Linked DNA regions of Homo sapiens. The protein of the gene in region 1 purifies or fractionates together with the protein of each later gene. This does not show direct contact. Each region holds a gene or a part of one and is shown in the gene's direction. Other genes may lie near its edges.

Region 1 (2,602 bases):
AAGAGTCACTACACTCAGGAAAGCCTAAAGCTTGAAGACTCCATTTATTTATAGTGCATCCCAATCCAGATACGTAACAATTAACGAGTTATTTTTACTATAAGCAAAGTTGCCTAAAATCATAGTTGATACTAACCATGGTTAACAGAGCTCTAAAGTTTGACAGAAAGTGAGATTCAAATCCTTTCACTCTCATATGCTAAACCTTTTGCCTTACTCTGGGTCATCAGAGAAATTTAGGTGAGAATGTATGATGAAGTCTGTGTTTTAGATTCAATGCAGATATATCATTGTGGGCAGAACTCTTTCTGGTTATATCCAGTTAAGAGTAAATCAGGCTTTCAGCCGGGCGCGGTGGCTCACGCCTGTAATCCTAGCACTTTGGGAGGCCGAGGCGGGCAGATCACGAGGTCAGGAGATCGAGACCATCCTGGCTAACACGGTGAAACCCCGTCTCTACTAAACATACAAAAAATTAGCTGGGCCTGGTGGCGGGCGCCTGTAGTCCCAGCTATTCGGAAGGCTGGGGCAGGAGAATGGTGTGAACCCAGGAGGCGGAGCTTGCAGTGAACCGAGATCGCTCCACTGCACTCCAGCCTGGGCGACAGAGCTAGACTCTGTCTCAAGAAAAAAAAAAAAAAAAAAAAAAAAAAGAGTAAATCAGGCTTTCATAGCAAAGGTATGTCTATTTTATGTATATAAACTTCAGGTACTCTAACTTGAGTTTCACTATGAAATTTGTGATTTTTTTTTTTTTTTTTTTGAGATGGAGTCTTGCTCCATCGCCCAGGCTGGAGTGCAGTGGCCTGCTGTTGGCTCACTGCAACCTCCGCCTCCCAGGCTCAAGCCATTCTCCTGTCTCAGCCTCCTGAGTAGCTGGGACTACAGGCGCCTGCCACCACGCCTGGCTAATTTTTGCATTTTTGGTAGAGACGGGGTTTCACCTTGTTGATCAGGCTGATCTCCAACTCCTGACCTCAGGTCATCCACCCACCTCCGCCACCGTGCCCGGCCGAAATTTGTGATTTTATAACTAAGAATTTTTAGTTAAGAACATTATCAGTAAAGACAACGTAATCCCACCCTGGAGAGTTTATTGGGAGCCCAGGAATATTCATTTTTAATACACACACACACACACACACACACACACACACACACACACACTGATCAGAGTAACGGGAGTTTCTCTCAGGAGTCATACTCCATGAGCCTGGACCCAGTGGTTCTTTATGTGGAAACAAATTTCACCTATAGGTAACCTGGTAACTGCTATTTTCTTCTGTGTGCTCTGTCAACAAAGGTATCAGTGGCTTGCAGGAGATGCCTTTAATACTCAGAGCATTCTATCTCCCCCTATCTGGTTTAGAAGGAAGGCCTTCATTAGTTACCTTTTGAGAAGTTACTAGAACTCTCTATTAGAGACTTACCCTCCTGACCTGATAAAAAGGGATACCCATGTCTCTATTAACAGCTTTATCTCTTTCTACAGTTTTGGGTATTTGATAAGGTTAAGGCAAAATTTTAGTTATGCTTAAGGAGGAGTTCTTTTTTCACAATTACAGAGAAAATTTTGGTTTGTTGAAGATTGCAGAAACAGCAATGGTAATGTAAGACAGTTTTGGCCTTTAATTTTTTTCTTGAAACTCTACAGTATACTACAATAGTGAAGGAAACTATTATCATGAGAGATCCTTCTGAATAGGATGTCTTTCTGAGTTCCACTATTCAGTTACAAAACTCCTTAATGCTTAAAATTCATTATGAAAATTAGATTTATTTTAAATACTTTCAAGTGTATACATTTTTATTTCATAATTTTTATTGTCTTTTAACTAAAGCATTTAGTTCATTTATATTTACTGTGTACCTTTTATATTTAATAAATATATTTACTTATTAAAAGATTACCACTGATATATTTTATTATAAATATTATATTTATAAATATATTATTTATATTTATATTTATATATTTATATATATTTATATATAATATATATTTTAATATATTATATATTAAAATATATAAATATATATAATAAATATAAATATTTATTAAAAGATTACCACTGATATATTTGGGTTTAAGTCTATTATCTTTGTGTTATTGGTTCCAACAATTCCATCTTTCGTTTTTTTAAATTTTTTTAACTACATATTTGATACGATCTTTTCCTTCTTGCCTTCTTTTTGATTACTTACTTTCTACCATTCTATGTTTTTCGTCACTAGTTTGAAAATTGTATACTTTGTTTTTATTCTTTCAGTGGTTACCCTAGAAATTACAACAAACAAAAATTGCAACAACAATAAATTACAACAAGAAGAATTTTTTTTTTTTTTTTTGAGACAGAGTCTCGCTCTGTCGCCCAGGCTGGAGTGCAGTGGCGCGATCTCAGCTCACTGCAAGCTCCACCTCCCGGGTTCATGCCATTCTCCTGCCTCAGCCTCCCGAGTAGCTGGGACTGCAGGTGCCTGCCACCACGCCTGGCTAATTTTTTGTATTTTTACTGGAGACGGGGTTTCACTGTGTTAGCCAGGATGGTCTCGATCTCCTGACCTCATGATCCATCTGCCTTGGCCTCCCAAAGTGCTGGGA
Region 2 (3,836 bases), on another chromosome or scaffold:
AGTAGCTAAGATTACAGGCATGCACCACCATGCCTGGCTAATTTTTTGTATTTTTAGTAGAAACAGGGTTTCACCATGTTGCCCAGGCTGGGTCTTCAATTCTTAATAAGGTTTTAAGATAAGATAGTAAAATGAGAGCACATGTTATTACAAAGTAGATTAATTTAAATAATTAAAATATATATTCTATTTTCTTTCACTATGATTTGAAGCTCTTAAAGTTTTAACACTCATTTTAAAGCTAGATATTAAAGAAGAAATTGAAGATGAAGAAAAGACAATTGAAGATTATATTGATAAAAAGATGAATGATGCTGATTCCACTTCAGTTGAAGCTATGTACTCTGTTGCTAGTCAATGTCTGCATGAAAAGAAAAATAAGAGACCAGACATTAAGAAGGTATGCATTTTTTATACTTATTTAAAAAGTGAAAGGGGTGGGGTTCATCATATTTTCCAGAGTGTATATTTTAAAGCAACTGTATAATGTGGTTCTTTTGTTTTTTTCTTTCTTTTTAAAAGGTTCAACAGCTGCTGCAAGAGATGACAGCTTCTTAAAACTTTATTGGAAAAGACTCTTGACTTTTTATATACACCTATCTCAACCATTTTTTTAACTGATTTTTTTCCTAAATATTCTTCTTTACCTTTAACAAGGCATAGGCTGTTGCAGGACAGTGGTTATTAAAGCATGGGTTGAACTTCCAAAATATAAAAATAGAGCCACCATATCAACACTTAGCCCTACCCATTAGTATCACCCCCAGTTCTTACAGTAATCCCTGAGAAATCTCCTTCAAGCATCACCAAACACAGTTTGAAAATTACAGGGTTAGCAAAAAGAGCCTGGGCTGTATGTAGGGTGGAAACACTCTGATCTGAAGCCCAGCTGACTCCACTACTAATTTGCTGTAAAGCTTTGGACATACACTTAGCTGCTGTGAGCCACTAATAACATTGGGCTAATATCTGCTGTGCTTCTCTGACAGGTAGTCATGAAAATCAAATGATGCAAAATATATACAAGCACTTTGTAAATTGTAAAATGATACAAAATTTAAAGTTTATAGAGCCAGTTACAAAATCCTATTAGTCATATATTTATAGATTGTGTTCACAGCAATCATTTAACCACAAATAAAATATCCCTTGATGATACTGCCATAATGATATGTCCATTATTAGATTATGTTACATGACAAAGTTGAAGGAATTTGGCAGATGCAGTTAAGGTTCCTAAACAACTCACTTTGAGACTGTTGAAAGGGCCTGACCTAATCAAGTGAACCCTTGCAAGAAGAATTCTCCTTGTAAGCCTTGAAGAAGTATGTGAGAGGGCCACATTGGCTAAAACCTAAAGGTGGCCTCTAGGAGATGAGACCTACCTTCCAGTTGTCAGCAAGCAGGAAAAAAAAATTGGGACCTCAGTTGCAACCACAAGGAACTGAATTCTGCCAAAAATCTGAGTCAGCTTAGAAGAGTACTCCAAGCTTCAGATGATAACCACAGCCTGGGCTGACACCTGGATTTCAGCTTTGCATGATCCTCAGTATGAGAATCTATCTGTTCTGTGCTGGACTTCTAATATATAGAACTGTGAGATAATGGGTCACATTGGCTGGATGTGGTGGCTCATACCTGTAAATCCCAGCACTTTGGGAGGCCGAGGCAGGCAGATCACCTGAGGTCAAGAGTTCAAGACCGGCCTGGCCAACATGGTGAAACCCCGTCTCTACTAAAAATACAAAAATTAGACGAGCGTGGTGGTGGACACCTGTAGTCCCAGCTACTTGGGAGGCTGAGGCAGGAGACTAGCTGGAACCAGGGAGGTAGAGGTTGCAGTGAGCTGAGATCGTGCCACTGCACTCCAGCCTGGGTGACAGAGTGAGACTCCATCATAAATAAATAAATAAATAAATGGGTCACATTAAGCCTTTAAGTTTGTGGTAATTTATTATTCAGTAATAGAAAACAAATACAGATACTCTCCCATGATGTTTTTCCCATGATGATTTCCCATGATATTTACAGGTTTTGCCCACATTTGAGGGGTATGTGGAAATTATACAGAGCATGTACAGCGGGAGGCTTATAGTGTACGTACTGAAATGTGGGGTTGGAGCCCCAACACAGAGACCCCAGCAGGACACTGCCTAGTAGAGCTATGGGAAGGGTGCTGCCACCCTCCAGACTTGAGAATTGTAGAGCCACCAGCAGCTTGCACTCTGAGCTTGGAAAAGCCACAGGCACTCAACTTCAACCATGAGGGAAGCCACGCACCCTGCAAAGCCACAGGAGTGGAGCTGCCCACGGCCTCGAGGGCCCACCCCTTGCACCAGTGTGCCAGGATGTGGGACATGGAATCAAGGAATATGTTAGGGCTTTTTTTTTTTTTTTTTTGAGACGGAGTCTTGCTCTGTTGCCCAGGCTGGAGTGCAGTGGCACGATCTCGGCTCACTGCAAGCTCTGCCTCCCAGGTTCACGCCATTCCCCTGCCTCAGCCTCCCCAGTAGCTGGGACTACAGGTGCCCGCCACCATGCCCAGCTAATTTTTTTTGTATTTTTAGTAGAGATGGGGTTTCACTGTGTTAGCCAGGATGGTCTTGATCTCCTGACCTCGTGATCACCCGCCTCGGCCTCCCAAAGTGCCAGTATTTAAAGTTTAATGTCTTCCCAGCTGGGTTTCAGACTTGCCAGGATCCTGTTGCCCCTTTCTTTAGCCAATTTCTCCCTTTTGGGACAAGAATGTTTTACTTATTGCCTGTACCACCAACTGTATCTTGGAAATAAATAACTTATATTTTATTTCAGAGGCTCATAGGCGGCAGGAACTTACCTTGAGTCTCAAATGAGACTTAGGACTTTTGAGTGATGCTAGAATGAGTTAAGACTTTGGGAAGGGATGATTATATTTTGCAATGTGAGAAAGACATTAGATTTGGGGGGCTGGGGGTAGAATGACATTGTTTAGATGTTTGTCTCCTTCAAATTTCATGTTTAAATGTAATCCCCAGTGTTGGGGGTGGAGGTGGGGCCTGATGGGAAGTGTTTGGGTCATGGTGGATGATCCCTCATGAATGGCTTAGAGCCACTGGTGATGAGTGAGTTCTCACTCAGTTCGTGTGAGATCTGGTGGCTTAAAAGAGTCTGCTCCCCCTTTGCCTTCCATTGTGATTGTAACCTTCCTGGGGCCTTCATCAAAGGCCAGGCAAATATTGGTGCCGTGCTAGTATGGCCTGCAGAACCGTAAGCCAAAACAAACCTTTTTTCTTTATAAATTACCCAGCCTCAGTTATTCCTTTATAGTGATGCAAAACGGGCTAACTATATAAATTTGTAATTTTTAAGTTATAGATTGTTTTTATTAAACACTTATGAATACTGTTTGAAGTGCTTTAATTTTTATAACAATCCTATGAATTTGGTAATAATCACATTTTACAGATGAGGAAATTACCCAAGATTATATAGCTAATAAGTTGCGTGGCAGAAATTAGCATCTGGTATCAGTTTGCGATCTTTACCACTAACACGATGTCTGTGCATCATATTAATCATAATCATTTTCTCTGTCATATGTTGAAAGTTATTGTGCCAAACATTGTGCTGAGTTTTAGAAGCATGATCTGATTTGATAAATCTACAATGTAGGTTCTATTCTTTTACTTCTTGAGGAAATTTTGAGACCCCCAATGATTAAATAACTTCTTTCCCTTGTTCATTGTATTAGACTGCAATTCTCCACTCATTATATTTGATGCCTTTTGCAATATGGCTTTGTAATTTTTCCCATCAGGAAGTAAAGTCTATTTCCTCAACCATTAAATCTGGGCTGG

What was found.
Region 2: the proteins of GTF2H2C (region 1) and IRAK4 fractionate together in Homo sapiens (co-fractionation; one large-scale study listed by BioGRID). This does not show direct contact.

What each region holds. Positions count from the first base shown.
Region 1 is NC_000005.10:69,593,312-69,595,913, forward strand, and holds the end of GTF2H2C (general transcription factor IIH subunit 2-like protein), read left to right. Parts: 3' UTR 1-1,910; downstream 1,911-2,602. UniProt on the Homo sapiens protein: Component of the core-TFIIH basal transcription factor involved in nucleotide excision repair (NER) of DNA and, when complexed to CAK, in RNA transcription by RNA polymerase II.
Region 2 is NC_000012.12:43,786,158-43,789,993, forward strand, and holds the end of IRAK4 (interleukin-1 receptor-associated kinase 4), read left to right. Parts: intron 1-241; coding exon 242-400; intron 401-522; coding exon 523-558; 3' UTR 559-3,384; downstream 3,385-3,836.